4 linked regions of the Homo sapiens genome follow. The protein of the gene in region 4 purifies or fractionates together with the protein of the main gene of each other region. This does not show direct contact. Each region holds a gene or a part of one and is shown on either strand. Other genes may lie near its edges. The genes, in order: KIAA2013, DIPK2A, LMAN2L and TMEM106A.

Region 1 (7,983 bases), on a different chromosome or scaffold from region 4:
CACAAGTGATATCCATAGGCATGGGGCAGCAAGCTCAAGGTCCCAAGGCAAGTAAAAGGAAGAGGCCTGAGCAGAATCCAGGGCCCCTACCTCCCAGCTGGGATCCAGGGCTGGGAGTTTCAGCATCTGGAGACAGGACTTGGTGCCAGAATCCACCGGATGTTTTGGATTCAGGAGGATGCAGACTCAGACTCCAGACCCCTGGAGGAAGAGGAAATGCCAGGAGGAGCAGAGGGAGGAGAATGAGCATTTGTTGGCTGGTTCCATGTTCTCTTTTTTTTTGAGACAGGGTCTCACTTTGCTGCCCAGGCTGGAGTGCAGTGGTGTGATTACAGCCCACTGCAGCCTCAACTTCCTGGGCTCAGGTGATTCTCCCACCTCAGCCTCCTGAGTAGCTGGGACTACAGGCATGCACCTTGCCTGGCTAATTTTTTTTTTTTTTTTTTTTTTTGTAGAGACAGGGTTTCACAATGTCGGCCAGGCTGGTCTAAAACTCCTGAGCTCAAGACATCTGCCTTCCTCAGCCTCCCAAAGTGCTGGGATTACACGTGTGAGCCAATGCTCCCGGCCCCTGGTTCAGTTTTCAAAACTCTCCCTCATTCCCTGCTCGCAACAGCCTTGCTAATTAAACAGTATTGCCCCATTTGCAAAATGAGAAAACAGACCCAGAGAAGTGAAGCAATCTGCTCGACGCCACACAACTGATGCAGAACTACAGTAAGGGAGGCAGCATTGGAACCCAGCTCTAACCCTCCATTTGCTGTAGTCCAAGGAGAACCTCAATGGTGATGTACTATGAATAGAAAAAAAAAACAAAACCTTGAGGCCAGGTGCCATGACTCACGCCTGTAATCCCAACACTTTGGGAGGCTGAGGTGGGAGGATCCTTTGAGACCAGGAGTTCAAGACCAGCCTGGGCAACATAGACCCGTCCCTCCGCCCCCACCCACCTCCCGTCTCCACAAAAAAAATTAGGAGGGCATGGTGGTGTGCGCCTGTAATCTCAGCTTCTCAGGAGGCTGAAGTGGGAGGATCACTTGAGCCCAAGAGGTTGAGGCTGCAGTGAGCCGTAATTGTACCACTGTACTTCTGCCTGAGTTACAGAGTAAGACTCTGTCTCAAAAAAAAGGAAAAGAAAAAACCCCTTGGGCAGTGGGAGTCCCATGCCCAAAAGTCATTTTAAGTCAGGAGGGGGAATCAATCTTGGAGGCTGCTGGCCTCTCTGGGAGAAAGGATTCACTCTGGCAAAGCCTGCCCTCTCCTCCTTTGGTATCTGTTTCCTGTTCCCTTCACCAAATTGCTGAAACTTGAACCCTGCCCAAGCTTCATGGAGAAAGGGGGCCTGTCTCTTTAACCAGTGGTGGCTGCCGTCCAGATGTTACTTCTGGTACGTGCTGCACGTGCTGTGGACAGTTAAAGGCGCAGGACTCAGATTTCTAGGGAAGGTGTAGAAAGGATAGCTGGCCTGGAGGGCAGCTGCCCGGTGACATGAGGGGCTTTTCTCATTTTCATCCTTTTCTTTTATTCATTTCCTTTTTTGGCCCCAGGAAGAGCAAGGGCTTCGGTAGGATGGCCATATTCTGTGCTGCTAGATGGATGATCACCTCTCACTAGCACTTAAGCCTCCCTAATAATAATAATAGTAAAAATAAATCATAATAAAATGTCCTCTTTCTTTTTTTTTTTTTTTTGAGACAGAGTCTCACTCTGTCTCCCAGACTGGAGTGCAGTACCTTAAGGCTGGGCACGGTGGCTCACGCCTGTAATCCCAGCACTTTGGAAGGCTGAGGCAGGTGGATCATCTGAGGTCAGGAGTTCCAGACCAGCCTGACCAACATGGAGAACCCTGTCTCTACTAAAAATACAAAAAATTAGCCAGGCATGGTGGCACACGCCTGTAATCCCAGCTACTCGGGAGGCTGAGGCAGGAGAATTGCTTGAACCTGGGAGGTGGAGGTTGTGGTGAGCCAAGATCGTGCCATTTCACTCCAGCCTGGGCAACAAGAGCGAAACTCCATCTCAAAAAAAAAAAAGCCTAAACCTCAGCATCACACAATATCCCCTTGTAATAAACCTGCACATGTACTCCCTGAACCTAAAATAAAAATTGAAAAAAAAAAATAAAGAAGGTTAAGTGTGGTGGCTCACACCTGTAATCCCAGCACTCTGGGAGGCCAAGGTAGGAGGACTGCTTGAGTTCAGGAGCTCAAGACCAGCCTGGGCAATGTGGCAAAAACCTGCCTCTCCAAAAAATACCAAAAAAAAAAAAAAAATTAGCTGGGCATAATGGTGACGGCCTATAGTTCTAGCTACTTGGGAGGCTGAGTTGGGAGGATCACTTAAGCCTGGGAGATGGAGGTTGCAGTGAGCTGTGATCGTGCCACTGCACTCCAGCCTGGGCAACAGAGTGAGACCCTCTCTCTAAATAAATAAATAAATAAATAGGACTGGGGGTGGTGGCTCACACCTGTAATCCCAGAACTTTGGGAGGCCACGGTGGGCAGATCACAAGTAAGGAGTTCCAGACCAGCCTGGCCAACATGGTGAAACTCCATCTCTACTAAAAATACAAAAATTAGCCAGGTGTGGTGGCAGGTTCCTGTAATCCCAGCTACTCGGGAGGCTGAGGCAGGAGGACTGCTTGAACCCAGGAGGTGGAGGTTGTGGTGAGCCGAGATCGCGCCACTATACTCCAGCCTGGGCAACAAGAGTGAAACTCCGTCTCAATAAATAAATAAATAAATAAGGCAGGCGCAGTGGCTCACGCCTGTAATCCCAGCACTTTGGGAGGCTGAGGCAGTTGGATCATCTGAGGTCAGGAGTTTGAGACCATGCTGGCCAATGTTGTGAAACCTGGTCTCTACTAAAAACACAAAAATTAGCCAGGTGTGTTGGCTGTAATCCTAGCTTCTTGGGAGGCTGAGGCATGACAACTGCTTGAACCTAGGAGGCAGAGGTTGCAGTGAGCTGAGATTGCACCACTGCCCTTTAGCCTGGGGGACAAAGTGTGACTCTGTCTCAAAAAAATAAAAAATAAAAAAAAATAAAAAAAATAAAAAAAATAAAAATGGTAAGCAGACTGTAGGACCACCTGGACAGTTCCTTCTAAAGGGCACTGGCCTCAGCAAACATTTCTGTGTCTGCTCACAGCCCACCAGAGGCCACCTCAAATGACCGTTTAATTTCCAACAACTGGGAAGCACTGTCTGGCTTTGGAATGTACTGAAACCAAAGTGGAAACAATCACCCATTGTCTGCCTCTGTGCTTATATTGAATTTTTTTCCCAAAATACAAAGCAATATTTATCTTTTGCATCGATGATTCACAATTTAAAGCCATTTTCAAAGTATGAGACGTTAGTGTCTTATGTTATTTAATAAGTTAAAACTTAGGACTGACATCAAGAAGACGATTTGGTGTAGTGGAGACATTGATGGCCCTTGGCTGGATTTGTGTCCACGTGTGGTGTGCATGCAGCTAGACAGGTCTGTTAACAAAATATTTTTGGGGAAGTCTAGTTTCTGGTGGTTAGTTTTTATTTTATTTTTTATTTTTTTAGACGGAGTCTCGCTCTGTTGCCCAGGCTGGAGTGCAGTGGCGCGATCTCGGCTCACTGCAACCTCTGCCTCCCTGGTTCAAGCGATTCTCGTGCCTCAGTCTCTCAAGTAGCTGGGATTACAGGCGCCCACCACCACGCCCAGCTAATTTTTGCATTTTTATTTTTTTATTTTTATTTATTTATTTTTTTTTTTTTGAGACAGAGTCTCCCTCTGTCACCCAGGCTGGAGTGCAGTGGCGCGATCTTGGCTCACTGCAAGCACCGCCTCCCGGGTTCACGCCATTCTCCTGCCTCAGCCTCCCGAGTAGCTGGGACTACAGGCGCCTGCCACCACGCCTGGCTAATTTTTTATATTTTTAGTAGAGACAGGGTTTCACCGTGTTAGCCAGGATGGTCTCGATCTCCTGATCTCGTGATCTGGCGGCCTCGGCCTCCCAAAATGCTGGGATTACAGGCGTGAGCCACCGTGCCCAGCCTAATTTTTGTATTTTTAGTAGAGACAGGTTTTCACCATGTTGGTCAGGCTGGTTTCGAACTCCTGACCTCAAGTGATTTGCCCATCTCAGCCTCCTAAAGTGCTGGAATTACAGACGTGAGCCACCACTCCTGGCCTCTGGTGGTTCCCCTTCCCCTCCTCCTCCCTTTTCCTTTCTTCTTCTTTCTTCCTCTTCTTCTCTCTCCTTTTTTTTTCCTCCACTTTTTCGTATTGTTCCAAGTGTTTTTTTGCAGTGAGGATAGTCTTTTTTTTTTTTTTTTTTTTTGAGACAGAGTCTCACTCTGTCGCCCAGGCTGGAGTGCAGTGGCGTGATCTCGGCTCACTGCAAGCCTGCAACCTCCGCCTCACGGGTTCAAGCAGTTCTCCTACCTCAGCCTCCTGAGGAGCAGGGATTACAGGCATGCGCCACCACGCCCGGCTAGTTTTTGTATTTTTAGTAGAGATGGGGTTTCACCATGTTGGTCAGGCTGGTCTCAAACTGCTGACCTCGTGATCCGCCCGCCTTGGCCTCCCAAAGTGCTGGGATTACAGGCGTGAGCCACCGCGCGCGGCGAGAGGATGGTCATTTTTACAGAAACAAAGTTGTTGTGTGTGTGTGTGTGTATGTTTTTAAATTTTGGGGCTGTTGAATCCATCAGTAGCAAAGGGGCCCAACACGTGTTCGGTTTGGCTGGCTCGATGTTTTTTTCACGAGTGAATTGGATGCTTCCAGTCCTCCCCAGACCCCTGCACTTAACTCCACTGGACTTCACTCTTCCGGCCTGGGAACGAGTGGTCCCGCCCCCGGCAGCTTTTGTCCCGCCCTCGCCGTGGCTCCGCCCCCTTCTCTCCGGCCTGCTCTCTCTCCTCCCTCCGCCCTCCCGTTTTCCATCTGTCGTAAAAGACACGGCGACGCTTGACCGCCGGCGTCGTTTGACGGCTGGAGGCCACCGAGAAGAAGGAGGAAGCAGGGGTGGCGGCTGCTGCGGCGGTTGCGGCGGGGGCCGGGGTGGGCGCCGCGGTCCGGGCCGGGCAGTGAGGCGCGGGCGGCCGGGCCGGTGGGCTGGGCGGCGGGCCCGGCGGCCGCCCTCGCACCCTTGCCCGCGCCTGGCGGCCCGATGTGGCTGCAGCAGCGGCTCAAGGGGCTGCCGGGACTGCTGTCGAGCAGCTGGGCCCGCCGCCTCCTCTGCCTGCTTGGCCTCCTGCTGCTGCTTCTGTGGTTTGGGGGGTCCGGCGCGCGGCGGGCGGCGGGCGGCCTGCACCTGCTGCCCTGGTCCCGCGGTGAGCCGGGCGCCGCCGAGCCGTCTGCCTGCCTGGAGGCGGCCACCCGCGCCTGGCGCGGCCTGCGGGAGCGCGGTGAGGTGGTACCGCTGGGTCCTGGAGTGCCGGCCCTGGTGGCCAACGGCTTCCTGGCCCTGGACGTGGCTGCCAATCGGCTGTGGGTGACTCCCGGGGAGCGGGAGCCCGCCGTGGCGCCGGACTTTGTGCCCTTCGTGCAGCTGCGCCCGCTGAGCGCGCTGGCTGAAGCTGGAGAGGCGGTGCTGCTGCTGCGGGAGGGGCTTCTGCGCCGCGTGCGTTGCCTGCAGCTGGGGTCCCCAGGTCCTGGCCCCGTGGCCGCCGGCCCCGGGCCCGCCTCCGTCTCTGGCCTTGCCGCGGGGTCCGGCCGCGACTGCGTGCTGCTGCAAGAGGACTTTCTGGCGCACAGGGGCCGACCCCACGTCTACCTGCAGCGCATCCAGCTCAACAACCCCACGGAGCGCGTGGCCGCGCTGCAGACTGTGGGGCCCACTGCCGGCCCAGCCCCCAAGGCCTTCACCAGTACCCTGGAGAAGGTCGGAGACCATCAGTTCCTCCTCTACTCAGGCCGGTCCCCGCCTACGCCCACTGGGTTGGTGCACCTGGTGGTGGTGGCCGCCAAGAAGCTGGTGAACCGCCTCCAAGTGGCTCCCAAGACGCAGCTGGATGAGACGGTGCTGTGGGTGGTGCACGTCTCTGGCCCCATTAACCCCCAGGTGCTCAAAAGCAAAGCAGCCAAGGAGCTCAAGGCGCTGCAGGACTTGGCACGGAAGGAAATGCTGGAGCTCTTGGACATGCCAGCGGCGGAGCTGCTTCAAGACCACCAGCTCCTCTGGGCTCAGCTCTTCAGCCCAGGTGAGTCCTGGCCAGCGCTTGGTCCACCCTAGATATGTCCCTCCCAAGTCTGCAGAGGTGACACTGAAGGTGATGGTGGGGTGGTTGAAACTTGGGCTTGGCGTTTCACCAGTGGTTGAATCTGCTCAACTGCTTAGTGTCTGTGCGACCTTTGGATTCGTCGCCTAATCTCTCTGGGCCTGTATTTAATAACAATAACGCCTACCTCAGAAGGTTTTTATGAGACTGTAGTGGACAATTGAGTGTAAAGGTCAATTCTTTCTGTTACTTGTTTTGGTAGATGGGGCCTGATGTGAGCAGAGTGAAGTGTTTTAGAGTCAGTTTGCAGAGGTGAAACCAGCAGGTGGATCCCCTGATTCTTTGCTCAGCACCGCAGTCGGCCTGGTGACAGACGTGGGCTTCTTGACATAACCCCTGCTAGGCTGAGGTGCGTCCTGGCAGTTGTGGCTGCAACTGGTTCACAGGGAGGTTGGAGAATCCCTTTTAGCAGGTTGAGATGCTCCCGCCCGATGAAAACTCTCCTCTCGTTGACTGTTAAAGAAAAGAAAATCCTGTTCTGGATGAGAGAGGGGTTTTGGTTTCCAGGGTTCCAATTGTCTGAACCTTTGTGTTTGGTTGCTCAGAGAGTTGAGTTCATTCAGCAAGTATCTATTGAATGCTTCTGCCAGGGCTGTTCTATGCATGGGGGGGTGCAGATGGGAACCAGAGTTCCTGTTCTCATGGTGCTTGCTTAAATTCTGGTTGGGAGGAAGACAGACATTAGAAAAGTGAAAATTAAAATTAAAATAAGGCATCTTTTTAGGCTAGAATGTGCTGGCTGGGCGCGGTGGCTCACGCTGTAATCCCAGCACTTTGGGAGGCTGAGGCAGGTGGATCACCTGAGGTCAGGAGTTCAAGCCAACCTGGCCAACGTGGCGAAACCTTGTCTCTACTAAAAATACAAAACTTAACCTGACCTCATGATCCGTCCACCTTGGCCTCCCAAAGTGCTGGGATTACAGGCGTGAGCCACCGCGCCCGGCGAGAGGATGGTCATCTTCACAGAAACAAAGTTGTGTGTGTGTATGTTTTTAAATCTTAGGGCTGTTGAATCCATCAGTAGCAAAGGGGCCCAGCACGTGTTTATTCAGCAAGTGTCTATTGAATGCTTCTGCCAGGGCTGTTTTAGGCATGGGTGGTGGCCTGCACCTGTAGTCCCAGCTACTCAAAGGCTGAGACGGGAGAATCACTTGAACCCGGGAGGCGGAGGCTGTAGTAACCTGAGATCGTTCCACTGCACTCAAGCCTGGGCAACACAGTGAGACTCTGTCTCAATAAACAAATAAATACATACATACATAAAGCTACAAGACTGGAGAGAGAAAGGACAGAGAGGAGAAGTGGCCTGAGACTGGCCTCAGCACTGGTGACTGATCTGGCGCAGGATGTCTGACCATAGGGTTGGTGCCAAGTCCTGGCTAAGTCTGTGTTCCTCTGGGCTCTGGCACCAGGCCCCGCTGCTTTTTAACAGGATTCTAGATTTCAGGCCCACAGGCTCAAGTTGGTCGTGTAAACAAGACAGGCTGACTTTCTTCTATACTTTAGGGAGATGGGCACCACTGTCTTTATCATTAAGGCACAACACCTCACTCTTCTGCTGCCCTTGGTCTTTATTTCGTATGCTCTGCCTCCCAGCTGTCCTTCCCCCTTAACATGCCGCTTTCATGGTGTTGCAGGAGTGGAAATGAAGAAGATCACTGACACCCACACGCCGTCTGGCCTCACCGTGAACCTGACGCTCTATTACATGCTCTCCTG
Region 2 (4,081 bases), on a different chromosome or scaffold from region 4:
TTGCACTGAGCCGAGATCGTGCCACTGTACTCCTGCCTGGGTGACAGAGCGAGAATCAGTTTCAAAAAAAAAAAAAAAAAAAGTATTGTGTTTTACTAGGAGAAAATGCGTAATATAAATCTGAGATGTAATGATACATCTCAGATTTGCTTCAAAATAAGCTGGAAGCAAGTAGTTTAGAGATGAAACTAGTTTTGCCACATGTTGTTAACTTTTGAAGTTAGTGTAATGATATACTACTGTTCATTATGTTATTCTCTTGCATACATTTGAAAATTTCCATAATGAAGTTTTTCTTTTAATTCCATTTTAGTGGTAAAAGTTTTTTAAAAACTCACTACTACAGAAAAAGAAAACACACATAACCTTAAAGCCTGGTGCACACCCAATCAGATAGTTCCCTCAAAATTCTAATTAAAGTGCATGCAAGAGGAAACTAGTAACTTATCTACTCAAACTCACTTTCCACTCAAGAAAAATGTGGATATCTGAAGTTAAGAAATAGTCTGAAAAGTGTGATTCTTAAAGTATTCTTTATTAAGATCATTAAAAGTTGTAGAAACAACTTTATATTATAAAGGCACAGGGAGACAGTTCAATAAAATATTCAAATTAACAGTAACTTACAGTACAAAAGACAATTTTAATGCACATACAAACCCCAAATGTCTGATTCAAAAATATTTTACTGCGTCTATTAATGGGCAATGATTAAAAATATAAATTGCTGCCATATAATAAATATCTGATAGTGAACATCTTGATAGCAAAGTGAACAAAATATTTATTGCTTTTCACTTACATATTTTTCCCTGTAATTTTAAATTCCTAATTCTTTTACTATCTTCTCAACTTTTCCCAAAGATAAAATAAATTTCACATAATTTCATGGAGGGGAAATGGTAGTTGTAAAAAACTACCTCAAGTAGCAATCACCGCTGGCAGTGTTTTCTCACTTTCTGTTCTGCAATTGCAATCACACTTCCAAAAAGAAAAGCAAATGTTTGCTAAACCATAGACAGACAACCTCTTTGTGACTGGTATTATAAGGTTTATAATGAAAACTTATCAAATATAAAAGGTGCTCCCTCTTGAAAATGTGTATTTTATTTGAAGTTTTGAGTAAGAGGTGAGTGTTTGGCAATTTTCAACACTCCCCTCAAAAATCTCCCAAAGTTGCAAAAAAGTCAGTTTAGTAAAATTCCAAGCACTTAAATGCTTCATTGAGGGCCAGTTGATATACGCAATGCACTAATGTGTAAAAATTAACCGAATGCAACTATTTTATAATGGAGAGCTCTTACCTTTTCCTTCCAGTTTTTAAACTGGCATAAACTTTATTGACTTCATCCTCCTATTTTTATAGCAACCTAGTTTTAGATGGTACAAGTTGAATTTCTATCACAAGACAATAAAATAACATGAAAGCATTATCCTAGTTAATGCTATTTCAACTTAAGAAATATCTACATTGAAGTATTTGATAATAATTGTAAAGTTACTTAACCGTATGTCATGTTCAGACAGTATGTAGCAGCTAGTAACGTGCCTGGCACAGAGTTGATGCTTAATAAATAGTTGCTGAATAAATGAAAAAGAAAAACCTGCCTTTGGTTGTGCATACTTTAATCACTTTCTGATTTAGAAAAAGATCAGTCTAGAGCTCACTACTGCACACTACATCAAACTTTGCTGTAAACAAAAGTAACAACTTCAAACAGAAAAATATTACCTGTTAGTGATAGTCAACTTATATAAAGAGCCCACACATTTCTATGCAAATAATTAAATTTGATGTTCTGATGTTTAACCCTTAGGTAAAGAAGACCAAAGTGTGCTGACTGGCTAATTTGTATGCTTTATAGTAATAATGATTAGTTCCTCAATAAATGAAAAGTTATGATGCCCGATTAAATTCAAACAATGGCTACCATGTTAATTTTGCAAAACTACCCATGAATAAAAGGTAGGATAACTTTAAATTACTTGAAAGCAGTAGTTTAACTTTCAACAGAAAAAATAATCAGGAAGATCTGAATTTAATAATGACAGAGCTAAAATACTGGAAGTAGGGTGGTAAGAATAAGTAGCTGACCAATTCTATTTTAAATTCTAAACATGAGATTAGGTGTAATATTTCTTTGGCATATGCATTACTATCTTGGACTAGTTAACACTTTTTAGATACTGGGTTGTATTTTTTTTCTGAATCAAAATTAACATCAATATATAGATTCTAGTATATTCTTCTTAAAGCCTTTAGAAAAGATAAAATGACATTTTGCAACATATGCCAAACTTCATGTTTAGTGTACACTTCTAATTATTGGCATAGAGGGATATAACTGTTAAATAACCTGAAATGACACCATGCAATGGTGAAACTACAGAAGTTGGTGAAAAGAAGTATTTACATAATGTAATATTTAGCTTTCTTTAAAAAAAAAAAAAAAAAACACAGTAAACCTGGGAATCCTGCCCTAACAGTAAATATGTACCAAATAGCACTGAATGACAACTATTAAAAATTTAAATGAACACCTACAGTAACCTGAATTTTCAAAATTTAATTAAAAAAAAAAAGGGGGAAAAAACCCTACACATCAGAAGGAAAAAGCGGCCTATAAAACAGACCAATCTGACTTGACATTCAAAGTAAATGCAAGAGATTCACAAAATCATGATAGTAAATGCAAACTAAGTACCAAGTACCCTTTGATACACAAGCCAATGTACTATCAGACTCATTTCCAATAGCTTAACAATATTCATTAATCCACTCAAGCATTCCGGGGTAGTGGGGAGCAGCTGATGACAGCTCAAGCCTCCAAAGTATAAGAACATACTTATTTGCAGAAGCATCATGTGATTTTTGAAGTAATGTCTTATTTTGATGGATGTTAACATTAAGATCTATCAGTGCAAGTTTATCATCCTCTGAATGTAACACTTCCAAATTTCATTTTTTCAGATCGTTTTTTGGTGGTTTAGTTTTAGCCAGTGCTGTTTAAATGGAGAAAAAAAGAAAAGTTCACCATAGACTACCTCACGTTGTTACTTAATTGTGCTAGGTATTCACGCAGTTCTTTTGCAGCCTGGAATCTGCCATAGCGCTTCTTTGGGTTGGCACACTCATCCAGCAAGGCCTCGAGCCGGCCATCTTTGGCAATTTCACTTGGTGGATCATGAAGGAGTCCTCCAGAAGTGCCACGCCAGGTGGCATGTCTGGATAAGAGGTTCTGACAAACAGCATAGTAATTGTGGTCCACAGTGGCACGAGCACAAAGAATTTCTTTTGAAAATGATAAGCAAGCCTCCTTATCACAGTCATCAAACTTGCTTTCATACCATACATCCCAATTTTCAGGTTTATCTGTGAAAGGAGGAAAAGCAGAAGTAGAAAAAAATTTTTTAAATAGTTTTCATTGCTTCCAAAAATAGAATATTTCACTAATTAATAGTATTTGTTCTACACTTTTAGGTAAAAGTATATTATAACCATAAACATTTAAATATATAAATTCATACAAACATTCACTGGGAGCCCACTAACGCTAGGCAGAAAGATTCAGAAAGGTCTCTACCACTTACAGGTTTAGTCTAGCGACTTTCCATCATACACAGAAAGTGCCATAAAGAAATATGACACAATGCTACAGGAATAGTGGGGAATTAAATTAGCACTTGTCCCTGGGGCTGTAGAAGGCTGCAAAAAGGAGAACATCTGATTTAGGTCTTAAAAGAAAACAAATCTGAAAAGAAACTAGGAAAAAATAGCATTCTAGGTTCAGGACACAGTATATGCAAAGACATGGACATAAGGGATTGCTCCATTTGGTTCACGAAGCAATAAGTTCACTGTGGCTAGAGTGTGAGAAACGTAGTTGGCAAGGAGATACAGGTGACGCTAGAAAAATAGGTCGTAACTTGTGTAATCACGACCATAATTTATTTTATAGAAAGATAACTCTGGGCTGAAGATTGGAAGGATTAAGATCATGAGAGCAACTATAGATGGCCCAGAATGAAAAGCTAGATTGGAGAAACATTTCAGGCAAAAATAATTAAGTATATGGGTAAA
Region 3 (7,035 bases), on a different chromosome or scaffold from region 4:
TTTATATATATATGAGTACCTGTGAACGATATTTGTATCTAGAAATACACTAGTCACTGATTGAATGTTTATTGACTCCCTCCTGAACACCAAGACATTGTACTAAATGCTTCGCATATCTCATTTCATCTTCATAATGAACCCTGTGAGCTTTGTATTGTTCTGTTTACAGTGAGGAAATAGAATCTCAAAGAGGTGATGTAATCCACCGAAGGGTTACACAGCTATAAGTGACATAACTGCAGTTAGAACTCAGGTCTCCCTAATTACAGAGGCCATTTGGAATTTTAGCCTAGAATCCATAAATCCACAAGCTAATGGGTGTCTTTTCCATCGAAATATGCTGAAGATACAGTTATCCCGTAGAGGTCTTCAAAAAACACTTTTTTAAAAGTAGTCTTGTAGTACAAAAAGTTGAAAACATTTCTCCACCCTTTAAACAACAGTCCTTTGGATGATAAAACAGGTGAGAGTTTCTCCTTTCTGGTGACTCTTAAATTAGGAATAAAACTACCACCTTGCCTGAACCAGTGTGATTCTTCAATCTTTGGTTCTAACTTACAGAGTGCTTTCTAGGGGAAAAACAAAATTGCTCCTGTGTGAAATTAGTGGTTATCCAAGAAATACTTCCAGGAACTCTTGACTAGGCGTAGAAAATAAGATGGCATTTAGTGACTTACACTAATGTGAGGTTAAAAGTTGAAGGCCAACTCGTGTTGCCGAAGTAGACAGATTCTCTGTAGTTGCAAAGCTGTGAGGCTCCCTGTCTGGTGCAGCGTTTCTTCAATTTGGCTGCACATCACAGCCTTCTGTGGTGCTTTTTAAAAATACATAATCCTGGCTGGGTGCGGTGGCTCACGCCTGTAATCCCAGCACTTTGGGAGGCCAAGACGGGCAGATCACGAGATCAGGAGTTCGAGACCAGCCTGACCAACATGGTGAAACCCCATCTCTACTAAAAATACAAAAATTAGCTGGGCATGGTGGCGAGCGCCTGTAATCCCACCTACTCATAAGGCTGAGGCAGGAGAATTGCTTGAACCCAGGAGGTGGAGGTTGCAGTGAGCCAAGATTTCGCCACTGCACTCCAGCCTGGGTGACAGAGTGAGACTCCATCTCAAAAAAACAAACAAAAAACAATCCTGCACCCCACTCTAGCCATACGAATGAGACTCTTTGACTGAGGGACCCATGTATACGTGCAGTTAACAAGCTCCTTCAGGTGCTCCCAAGGTCCAGCATGCCTCTGGCTGTTACCTGGAACTGGGTCCACACCAGCCTTGGGAAGAGTAAGGCACCCTTAGGCTAAGGATTGCTGTCTCTTTATTATTTGTTTATTTTCTAAGCAAGCTAACATAGGAGATTGCTATCTCTTTAAAGTTGCAACTTAAACTTCTAATCAGGGTTACTAGAGGTGATGAGTGAAGGAAGCCTTGGGCTCATCAGAGCTCCACAGGGCATTTTTAATCCCTTTTTCTTAATTGTCACTGAAATTATGAGCATACTCTCAGATGCCAGTTTCTGTAAACTGCTTGATAACATGCTCACCATTTCCTTGTTCTAAATGGTAGTTGTTGAAGATTAACTTCATGCCAGTTTAATCATCCACGGATTGATGTCATGCCTTTCTGTGTCCTGTATGAATTCTGCCAGTGGTGTTAAGAGGAGGACGGCAGGGGATCTGCACTGCAGCCTCGGACTCCTGGCTGTGGCCCATGGAGCCCAGTGCCGTGGGTGCTGCCTTGCCTCATGGCAGCCTCTTCTCACAAGCTGTGATTCTGACTGATCTGTTTCCAGTTCCTTGAATGTGCCACCCTCATGCTTCTTGTGCCCTCAGATCTTTTGGTGGACTCCCTCTAATTACTTGAGTCTCAGCTCAGATATTGCCTCCTCAGGGAGAGGTTCCCTTGCCCATCCCTTGTATTACCTATTTTATTTTCCTTATAGCATTTTTCACTATCTGAAATAATTTTATTTGCTTCTTTGTTGTTTGTTTCTTCCACTCTGATCTTAATTCCATTCCTGTCTGTCTTGTTTCTCTTTGGACCCTCAGCATCTGGAACAGTACCTGGCTTGTAGTAGGTGTTCACCGTATTAAAGGAGTGAAGGGTTTGAGTTCTGTACCCTCGCCTACCTGTCCCACAGGGCAGAGCTGAGCTGAGCTTGTGTAGGTACCTCTTGTCGCTAATGGCTTAGAACTGCAGCTGTTTGCTGGAGCAGAGCTTAATACCCTCACGCCTGATGATTTTCTAAATCTGTCATTCTGCAATGCCTCCATGGAGCTTCTTCCTTGCCTATGTGTGGTAGGTTAGAATGACAATAGTTATTTGGGAATATATGACCATAAGGCTCAGTTAGAGGGTAAGTGATCCCTTTGGATTAGAGTTAGTTTCATAGTCTCTCAAGTGGCAAGATTTTGGTCTTCTGGGCAGGAGCTGTTTCCTGAGATCCTGGATAGTAAAGGATGTCTTGAATTTGGAAGAATTTAGCCCTGTTGTCTCCTCTTTCCCCTTGCTATAGAAATACAGTAGGCTGGGTACAGACAAACTTGAGACTGACTCCCAGAGACATAAGTGCGGCGTGCCTGGACAGCGTACTGCTATGTGTTTTATAAAGTGCCTTCCAAAAGCTTCAGGACCCTCTATGGGTTAGAGCGGTCTTCCTAGGGGACCCCTTTGAGAATCTGATATAGTAACAGACCCTCTCCTCAGAAAAATGTACAAGCACCCGTGCATATGGTTTTGCCTATCATCTTGAGGGTGCAAAGACTTCACGGATGCCCTTCAGGGACCCTAAAATTCTGTTTGGGGATTTAAGTTGGTTTGTTCATCCATCACAGCTGGGTCATAGCTCTTCTGTGGCTGTGTCTTTCTGACTTGGTCTCCTGTCTTCTGTGCCCTCTCTTGTTTTTATCATAACCTGCTGGACCCTCTCAGGCCCAGAAGAGGCGATATTCTCCAGGAGTCCAGGTACTCAGTTCTTGGCTCATCATGAGCATCCCTCATTCCCATGTGTCCATCCAACATTTGTTGCTGTTTCAAGTCCATGTGGTTGTCTCAGGAGTCCCCGGTCTCTGGTCTCGACTGCATCTCCATCTTGCATGTTAACCATTTGGGACAAAGGGACAAATACTCCCCAAAGGAGTGGCATGCCTCATGTTACCCCTTCACCACCTCACTACCCTGCCTTTTTGCACTGCCTTGGCATTGGGCTTGTTCTGGAATGATTAGTTCGCCATTTCTAAGGAAGAATTGCTCCTACAACTCTACTGGGGAGAGAGGGCCCCTGAAATAGATGGGAAAATGAGTGGCTTATGGGAAAACTTGCAATTTTCTCCCTGTTAAGGGAGAACCTTGCCCTCTTATTATTATTCGGAGAAGTTACGTGTGGAGGAGGCTTAAGTGGGCTGGAAAGTCTTTTGACTAAGGACAGTCATTGTGGCTGGCTGAGCCCATCCAGCAACCCCGTTCCATGTTCTGAGTTCTAATCCATTTAGCCTTATATGCTTATAGAATTTTAGAATTGAAAAGAGCTATCCTGAATGGAAAGATTCCCCTGCTCAAACAGGTATTTTCAGAATACCCGCTGTGTGCAGAACCATGGTTGGGAGGAGATGGGGCTGAAGTTTAGACATATGAAGACGTGATGAATGAATTTTTTCTTCAAGAAGCTTATGTGGCAGTTGGGGAGATAGGTACATATACACGAAAAGGAAACCCCTGGTATTAGGCGGCACATAAGTGCCAAATGGTGACCTTGGGGCATTCAAGTCAGACTCCAGCGTCTTAGGAGGACCACTTCAGGCCCACCCCAGTTCAGGAGCCAAGAGAATTACTGAAGGCAAATACCAAGTGTAGTCGCTTCCTGGGCCCATTTCCCTTGAGAGACCATCTGAATGTGGGCTCTCAGGGGCTGCTGACAATGAGGTCGAGTGGCTGCCTATTCTGCTGTAAGGGGCTCAACTTGTATGTGCTGAATTCCTGTTGCTGTTTGTACAGGCGTTCCTATGTGCTCTTCCTTAGTGTCTGCTTCCCCCTCTCTGCTTTCCAGCGGGTATTCCCCTACATCTCAGCCATGGTGAACAACGGCTCCCTCAGCTATGATCATGAGCGGGATGGGCGGCCTACAGAGCTGGGAGGCTGCACAGCCATTGTCCGCAATCTTCATTACGACACCTTCCTGGTGATTCGCTACGTCAAGAGGCATTTGACGGTGAGAGTCCTTGTCCTGGACCAGATGGTGGTGTGGGCTGTGTCGCTCTTGCTCCCATGGCCTGACCCTGATTTATCTCTCTTTTTATTCTAGATAATGATGGATATTGATGGCAAGCATGAGTGGAGGGACTGCATTGAAGTGCCCGGAGTCCGCCTGCCCCGCGGCTACTACTTCGGCACCTCCTCCATCACTGGGGATCTCTCAGGTACTGCCACGCGCACTCTTGGTTTGCCCTGACTGAGGCCTCTTCTCAATACCCACACTTCATTGAGGCCTCTCACAGGGGAGAGCCAGAGGAGCGGTGCTCTGGAAGGAGGTGCCTCAAGACTGCTTCTCCTTCTGCATTCTTATATCCACATTCCTTAAAAACCCACGCCAGGCTTTCCTAGTACAGTTGTCACTAGAAGATGGTTGGTGCTAATAGAAAGCAGTGTTTGTCCCTTCATTAAGCTGGCTCTTCTAGCCTGTATCGTGAGTTCCTTGCTTTCTGATTTCTGCTGTCAGGCTCCTCTCCTTCCAACCACTAATGTTCCCCGTTCCCCTTCCTTAACAAAGCTTTTCCTTGACTTTGCCGTCCCTCTTCTGACCCCAGACTCTCCTTTTGCTGAGACTTTTGAATGTGTTGTGTGTACAGATCCTTTTGTTTCCTAGCTGTCCACCTCCTTAACATGCTGACTCAGACCTGTGCTCTATCTTGCTAGTACACTAACACCATTCTCATGAAAGGTCATTCTGTTTCCTTGCCATATTCAGTACTCTATTCTCGTTCTCACCCTTTGTCCTCCTCAGCTCATTTAACCCATTACCCTGAAACTCTTGCCTTCTTGACTTATGTGACATTAACAGCACCTGGTTCTTTTACTTTTCCATCTCCTCTTGTTTCTTTTTCTACTTATGCCTGATTCGTAGCTTCTCGTTTATACACTTACTCTCTTTGCTTGAACCCCAATCATAACATCTTTTGGGAAGAGAAAAGGAACTGAACTTCTGTTTCTTTTGATTAATATAATTTGTTCTGGATAAAGCTAGTTTGGAATAGAAGTTTCTTGTGGCAAAATAGAAAGGCAGATACCCATCTGAAAAAGCCGACAGCTAGTGAGCTCCAGCCATTGTAGCTAAAAGGAAATGTCAGCTCAGTGAGGCTAAATCTTCCAGTTTTTCAAGAGCAGTTGGAATTCTGGATTTTTTTTTATATATATATATGGAGTCTCGCTCTGTCGCCAGGCTGGGGTGCAGTGGCGCCATGTCAGCTCACTGCAACCTCCACCTCCTGTATTCAAGCGATTCTCCTGCCTCAGCCTCCCAAGTAGCTGGGACTACAGGCGCGCCACCACGCCCAGCTAATTTTTGTATTTTTAGTAGAAACGGGGTTTCACCATGTTGGCCAGGATGGTCTCCATCTCGACCTTGTGATCCGCCCGCCTTGGCCTCCGAAAGTGCTGGGATTACAGGCATGAGCCACTGAGCCCAGCCTGGATAATCTGGATTTTTAAAATGCAATCTGCTGATCTTTAAAACTCTGGCATCTGATTTTTTTAAAATCAACTTTACTGAGGTGTGCTTTCCATACAACAGAAGAATACAGTTTGAAGAGTTTTGACAAATATTTACACCTATGTAGTCACCATCACAATTAAGATATGAATGTTTCCATCACCTGCCAAAAGCCTTATTATCCCCCTTTGCAGTATTCCTCCCCTTCTTGGATTCCAGGCAACCATTGATCTGCTTTCTGTCATGCAGAGAGATTAGTTTTGGCAATTAGGTTCTAAGTACCGAGCAGGCCAGACCTGTGGGAAAAATTTAGTCTCGGCAGGGGGATAGGAGGCATAGGCTGGAGATCTTTGCTATATAATCTCATTATATGACTACACATTTTCCTTTGAGCTTACAGGTTTCTGGGTTAACCTCCTGACGTACTTTTTAATGGAAAGTCCCCAACTGTCAGAAATGGCAGGGGAGAATAATTTTTTGTTTAGTCTAAGTTTTTTGCCCTAGGTCTTTAGTGAGAATACCCAAGTTAGTAAGTCTGTGTTCTCTGCCCATAGGGTATCCCTAAATGCAAGTTGTTTCTTTCTTTTGAGGTCTTTCTTGTTGCCATCCTCTTACTTGTTGTATAGTAGGTTGTTGAAAACTGCTGAGAAAGTTAGGATGTTTCCCAGCCGTTCCAGGCTTTAATGCCCTGCATTGCATGAGGAGCATTGCCCTGGCCTTTTATCCTGTCCCATGGTTTAAACTGAGCTCTGACAGTTAACATTTTTCCAACAGAAGATGAATCCAGTTTTTCACTACCTGGGAATCTGCTAAAGATTCTAGCAGTCCAAGCAGCTGTGGATGCTCTCCTTATAAATGACCAGAAATCCAGGCCCCAGTCAGTAACCAACCTAGTAGCAATGAGCACCCCTAGCACTCAGATTTGTGGTCTCTAAATACCAATTCCCCCTAAAAGGAACTGCAGCTTCCTTGAGAAATGGCTGATGCAGGGTTTGAGGTAGGAAATCTATAAGTTGGAACTTCCCAGAAAAGCAAGGAAGTTATAAAAAACTTCTGGGTTTATGTAAAGAGACGCAGGAGCCAAACTGAATAGGCTCCTACTTGACAAAGACAGGTGAGTTGAGCATCAATAAGAATCTAACTTCAGGCCAGGCGCGGTGGCTCACGCCTGTAATGCCAGCACTTTGGGAGGCCACGGCAGGTGGATCACCTGAGGTTGGGAGTTCGAGACCAGCCTGACCAACATGGAGAAACCCCATCTCTACTAAAAAAAAAATACAAAAAATTAGCCGGGCGTGGTGGTGCATGCCTGTAATCCCAGCTACT
Region 4 (5,702 bases):
GGCAGGAGAATTGTTTGAACCCAGGAGGTGGAGGCTTCAGTGAGCCAAGATCATGCCACTGCACTCCAGCCTGAGCAACAGAGCGAGGCCTCATCTGAAAAAAAAAAAAAAACAAAAAAAAACCCTGTAATCCCAGCACTTTGGGAGGCCAAGGCGGGCAGATCACGAGGTCAGGAGTTTGAGACCAGCCTGACCAACATGGCAAAACCGCCTCTACTAAAAATACAAAAATTAGCCGGGCATAGTGGCAGGCACCTGTAATCCCAGCTACTCAGGAGGCTGAGGCAGGAGAATGGCGTGAACCCGGGAGGTGGAGGTTGCAGTGAGCCGAGATCGTGCCACTGCACTCCAGCTTGGGCGACACAGCAAGACTCCATCTCAAAAAAAAGAAAAAAAAAAGAAATTAGCAGTGCACATCATAAGATACTAACAAAGTACTATCTCTTTAATGCATATCTGAATTTTGAATTGGATGGATGGTGTCCTGTTCTGAATGTTAAAATTCAGAACTTCCAAATATGGACTTATTTCTTCTAGTGATAATAACTAGCATTCATTGTGCTTTTGCCATGTGCAGGGACCTGTGATTAGTATTTTTTCATATATTAGCCGATAACAAATTCTGTGAGGTCAGTACAATTATCTGCCTTTTACCAACAAGGAAACTGAGACTTAAGGAGGCTAAGTGGGCTGCTCCATGTTATTGGGTCAATGGGAACAGAGATCTGGGAGTGGAAACCAGGCTGCCTGCCTGCCAATCCTGTGCTCCTACTCATTCCGGGCCACATCTGGGGAGCTAAATGTTGTTGGGGTAGTGTGCAGGGGAAAGCTTTGTATATGGAGAGGAGTGTCTGAACCCCCTCTCCGAGTTTCCTTGGTGTTCAGACTTTTCCATTCCTCCATCCTGGGTCCTGCTTTCCCACAGGAAGCTCTTTGTGTTCCTGGCCGTGCTCATCTGCCTGGTGACCTCCTCCTTCATCGTCTTTTTCCTGTTTCCCCGGTCCGTCATTGTGCAGCCTGCAGGCCTCAACTCCTCCACAGTGGCCTTTGATGAGGCTGATATCTACCTCAACATAACGGTGGGTGGGTGCCCTTGGCTCCAAACCCCCCTTCCTAGCAATACTTCGCTGTAACCTTTGTCCAGTGTTATGACCCTGGGCATGGGAAGCCAGAGATCTTATGGCACCCAGAGGGTGTTGGGAGCCTGAAGAGAAGTAGGAGCAACCATGAGCTCCATGACAGATGGTAAGGATTGGGACTCTACACAGTAAGGGGTCAGAATCCGGGCCAGATAAGTAAACCACAGGGGTGGAGTGGGGTGACAGTGCCTGAGACTCTCTGGATGGACAGGACTGAATGGAAAGAAGCTGTACAGGATGGACCTGGATCCTGAGGCAGCTTAACTTCGTAAAGTTGACCCCTCACCATTCAATGCCCCTCCAAGGGGCTCCCAGTTTTCATCCTCTGCACCTGAAGCTTGTCATGGTAGATGGGGCTCAGGCCAGACAGCCAGGCTTTTGCAACTGTTTGGCTTTTCCTAAGGATGGGCCATCTTCACTCCTCCCTTCCCTTGTCTTCATCCCCAGAATATCTTAAACATCTCCAATGGCAACTACTACCCCATTATGGTGACACAGCTGACCCTCGAGGTTCTGCACCTGTCCCTCGTGGTGGGGCAGGTTTCCAACAACCTTCTCCTACACATTGGCCCTTTGGCCAGTGAACAGGTGACTCCCCTCTCCCTGGCCAGCCCTGCCCACTGGTGTGTGGATGTGTGGTAGTGGGAAAGGGGCAGCTGGAGTTGGGGCTAACCCTGTGCCCATTTGGTTGACAGATGTTTTACGCAGTAGCTACCAAGATACGGGATGAAAACACATAGTGAGTACCCCTTGATCTCTTCTCCCCTAGCCACTTGCCTGGCTTAGGGACCCAATTAATACCCACCAGCTTTCCTGATTGCTTAGCAAATTCTTCAGCCAGCATCTGGCCTGCCCTCCCATGGCCGAGAATGTAATAAGCAAGGGTTCAGGGTCCCCAGCCTCTGCTTGTTTGGACCTTGATTAGAATGAAAAACAGGCTGGAATTTGGTTAATCTTTACAATATGTGACCTTGGGCTCTTCAGCCTGCATTGCTGAGGAAGAAGAATGTTTTGTCTGTCTCCTGAATGGGGGTCCAGCATGTGCCTGGGCCAAGTGAGTGGAGGTCAGAGTGATAGTGCAGCCATGCTGCTACACTCACCTGAAGGGTGGGAAGGGGTGGGAGTGACATTTTGGGGGCACCTGATGGAAGGAAAGAGTTCTGTGGGGTAAGGAAACTGGGACCTGCAGGCATCTTCTGAGCTGACAGGCTGCTCCATGTGACACGTGGTCCCACGTTCTCTTTTCTTCTCTCTCAGCAAAATCTGTACCTGGCTGGAAATCAAAGTCCACCATGTGCTTTTGCACATCCAGTAAGTAGAGCTTGGAGCTCTGGTATCCCTGCTCTCACTTCTGACTTCATTCTCACTCAGCTACACCTCATGGGCAGAGAGTCTTCCAAGCTGACCCCATGAATCTTTGTTGGCTCTTGGGAATAGCAAGTCTAGCCCCTTTTCTGAGTCTCACCTTGCCTATAAGTTATTAGGGGCAACAGGCATAGGGCTGTCTGGAAGCTGCTGGAAAACAGGTGGGGCAGCTGTCCCAGGTACCTTGGCAGAGTGGGGAGCCAGAGGGAAGGGCAAATGAGGGAGCTCCCCGCTCCCCACCCCCAGACAGTATAATGGGGCCAGAGCTTTCCTTTTCCTCCCAGCCATGGCAACAAGGCCTGCTTCCTCTCCAGGGGCACCCTGACCTGTTCATACCTGAGCCATTCAGAGCAGCTGGTCTTTCAGAGCTATGAATATGTGGACTGCCGAGGAAACGCATCTGTGCCCCACCAGCTGACCCCTCACCCACCATGACCTGTCTGCTGTCCCTGTACTCCAGGCACCTGCAACCCTGGTCTATATCTCCCACAACTCCCTGGTGACTAAGGAAGGACTACAGAGGCTTTGCCAAAGGAGAAGCCCTGCCTCATCACACCCTTACCTCCCACCCCCTCAGCACAGGAAGCTTGCTTTGAAGTTAACTTCATACACACACACTCATATCCTCCAGTTTCCCCCAGATTCTTTCAGGGGCTGCCATCAGATTCTGCCCTTGGTTAGTTTTTTGTTTTTTTTTTGGTAGAGACAGAGTCTCACTGTTGGTCCAGGTTGGTTTTGAACTCCTGGGCTCAAGCGATCCTCCCTTCTTGGCCTCCCAAAGCACTTGGATTACAGATGTGAGCCTGTGCCTGGCTGGTCTTTCTTGAGGAAAATCTGACCTGGCATTTTCTTGAGGCACCTTAGATTCCCTGGAGTGGCACCTGGCCTTTCTGTACTGAGCACCTGGTCAGTCTGAAGGGGGCATTTCACCCCAGCTCCATCAGGGCTGGCTGTCCCGTCTGAATGTGGAGAGAGCTGTAGTTTTATCTGGCTTTTAAAACATGGACCTGCCGGCTGGGCGCAGTGGCTTACACCTGTAATCCCAGTACTTTGGGAGGCCGAAGTGGGTGGATCACTTGAGGGCAGGAGTTCGTGACCAGCCTGGTCAACATGGTGAAACCTTGTCTCTACTAAAAATACAAAAATTAGCTGGGTGTGGTGGCATGCGCCTGTAATCCCAGCTACTCGGGAGGCTGAGGCAGCAGAATCACTTGAAACCGGAAGGCAGAGGTTGCAGTGAGCCAAGATCGTGCAACTGCACTCCAGCCTGGGCAAAAGAGCAAAACTTTGTCTCAAAAAAAGACTCTTTTCAAGTTTTCTACCCTCTGATAAGAAAATTTGGGGATATCCAGTGCCATCTCCAAGGACTTTCAGGGGATCATAGATGCTTTTCTGTGCCTATCTGCTTTGACCATGTGAAAAAGTGATAGTCTGCTTCTCTCTGGTAACTTGTCTGCCACCCATCTGATAGTAAGATTAGCCAAGGCCCTTTAGCCCTCTGTCCTTTCTGGTTATTGACTGTCCCTGGTTCCTAGGAAGACAGAGTTGTTCTCCAGCTAAAGCGTCTCCTCTCTATAAAGTAGTTTTACTATTCTTTTCATAGCAGGAGCCAAAATAGTAGAGGAGGGGAGAGAGGCACCTGGCACTCTGCGGGCCTGCACAGGAAAAACAGAGCCAAAGACAGAATCATTGTATAAGATATTTATTAAAGGAGAGCCTCTAAGTCCACATCCTGAGCCCATGTGAGTGGACACAGGTAGGTAAAACGGTGGGTCCAGCTGCTGTCATCTGAAAGCCTTCAGGAGATGAAGCTATCAGTATCCAGCTGAAGGCTGCTGGGTTCTGTTCCACCACCACCTTAGCACCAGGGCCCTCTCTGGTCCCAGAGGCCTCATCTCTCCTTGGGCTTTGACAATGTGGAGCAGCACATCAGCAGGGACTGGTCTAGACCCTCCCTTTCCTGTCACTTAGCTGGAGCTAAGCTCCAGATAACCCCTAGGTTCCCACTGGCTCCTAGTAGAAATAGTTTCTGTACTTTAGCAGAACAGGAAGGATATTTGTTCATTAAAGGTGGCTTGGTCTTACAGCTGGGTGCAGTGGTATATACCTGTAGTCCCAGCTACTCAGGAAGCTGAGGTGAGAGGATCTCTAGAGCCCAGGAATTCAAGTTTAACATGAGCAGCAACATTAGCAAGACCCCGTTTAAAAAAAAAAAAAGAGCTGGGCGTAATGGCGCACACCTGTAATCCCACCTACTCAGGAGGCTGAGGCAGGAGAATCACTTGAACCTGGGAGGCAGAGGTTGCAGTGAGCCAAGATCGCACCACTGCACTCCAGCCTGGGCAACAAGGGCGAGACTCTGTCTCAAAAAAAAAAAAAAAAAAAGATGGCTGTCTCTTTATCATTCAGACAGAACGATGAACACAGGTGAGCAGGGAAAGCTAATTTTGAAGTAGGATGCATGGAGAGGGAGAAGTGGTGACAGAACTTGGTAACTAGCTGGCTGGGGGAACGAGGGGAAGGAAGGAGACTGCTGTCTCCAAGCTGAGGTCAGGGTGGTGTTGGCAAGAGCGCAAAAGTCCAGGGAAGCCAGGCTGGAGCTGCTGTGTATAGACTGCCAAATGTGAAGTATTTATATTGTATTCAATAAACTATACTTAAGAGTGTTCAAAAAAGTCTCCTGGGAGTGGGAAGGGAGCTAGTGGATACTCCCTATTTCACAAACTTTTCTTTTTTTTTTTTTTTGAGACAGTTTCGCTCTGTTACCCAGGCTAGAGTGCAATGGCATGATCTTGGCACAGTGCAACCTCTGCCTCCTGTGTTCAAGTGATTCTCGTGCCTCAGACTCCCTGAGTAGTTGGGGTTACAGACATGCACCACCACACCAAATTAATTTTTGTATTTTTAGTAGAGACAGTGTTTTATCATGTTAGCCAGGCTGGTCTCAAACTCCTGGCCTCAAGCGATCTGCCCGCCTCGGCCTCCCAGAGTGCTGGGATTACAGGCATGAGCCACTGCACCTGGCAGAAACTGTTTCCTTAATGTTCTAACGGGCAGCAAGGTTTCTTCCCCAGGCCTCTGAGCCACTGATGACATATCCTGCCCTTCTGTTTTCCGTGAGATTGCTCACAGGACCTCACTCTCCCTCTTGCTCCCATTGTGTATCTCTAAAGTCTCTTCCAATTTTACTATTCCTGT

The links.
Region 1: the proteins of TMEM106A (region 4) and KIAA2013 purify together in Homo sapiens (co-immunoprecipitation; 2 studies listed by BioGRID and IntAct, with this or other methods). This does not show direct contact.
Region 2: the proteins of TMEM106A (region 4) and DIPK2A purify together in Homo sapiens (co-immunoprecipitation; 2 studies listed by BioGRID and IntAct, with this or other methods). This does not show direct contact.
Region 3: the proteins of TMEM106A (region 4) and LMAN2L purify together in Homo sapiens (co-immunoprecipitation; 2 studies listed by BioGRID and IntAct, with this or other methods). This does not show direct contact.

What each region holds. Positions count from the first base shown.
Region 1 is NC_000001.11:11,923,408-11,931,390, reverse strand, and holds the start of KIAA2013 (uncharacterized protein KIAA2013 precursor), read left to right. Parts: upstream 1-4,963; 5' UTR 4,964-5,153; coding exon 5,154-6,186; intron 6,187-7,901; coding exon 7,902-7,983.
Region 2 is NC_000003.12:143,988,802-143,992,882, reverse strand, and holds the end of DIPK2A (divergent protein kinase domain 2A isoform a precursor), read right to left. Parts: intron 3,374-4,081; coding exon 3,042-3,373; 3' UTR 515-3,041; downstream 1-514. UniProt on the Homo sapiens protein: May play a role in cardiomyocyte proliferation through paracrine signaling and activation of the PPI3K-AKT-CDK7 signaling cascade.
Region 3 is NC_000002.12:96,709,041-96,716,075, reverse strand, and holds part of LMAN2L (VIP36-like protein isoform 2 precursor), read left to right. Parts: intron 1-2,936; coding exon of another isoform or gene 2,937-2,969; intron 2,970-4,050; coding exon 4,051-4,212; intron 4,213-4,305; coding exon 4,306-4,420; intron 4,421-7,035. UniProt on the Homo sapiens protein: May be involved in the regulation of export from the endoplasmic reticulum of a subset of glycoproteins. May function as a regulator of ERGIC-53.
Region 4 is NC_000017.11:43,214,863-43,220,564, forward strand, and holds the end of TMEM106A (transmembrane protein 106A), read left to right. Parts: intron 1-925; coding exon 926-1,079; intron 1,080-1,586; coding exon 1,587-1,727; intron 1,728-1,834; coding exon 1,835-1,878; intron 1,879-2,396; coding exon 2,397-2,450; intron 2,451-2,818; coding exon 2,819-2,939; 3' UTR 2,940-5,179; downstream 5,180-5,702. UniProt on the Homo sapiens protein: Activates macrophages and polarizes them into M1-like macrophages through the activation of the MAPK and NF-kappaB signaling pathway.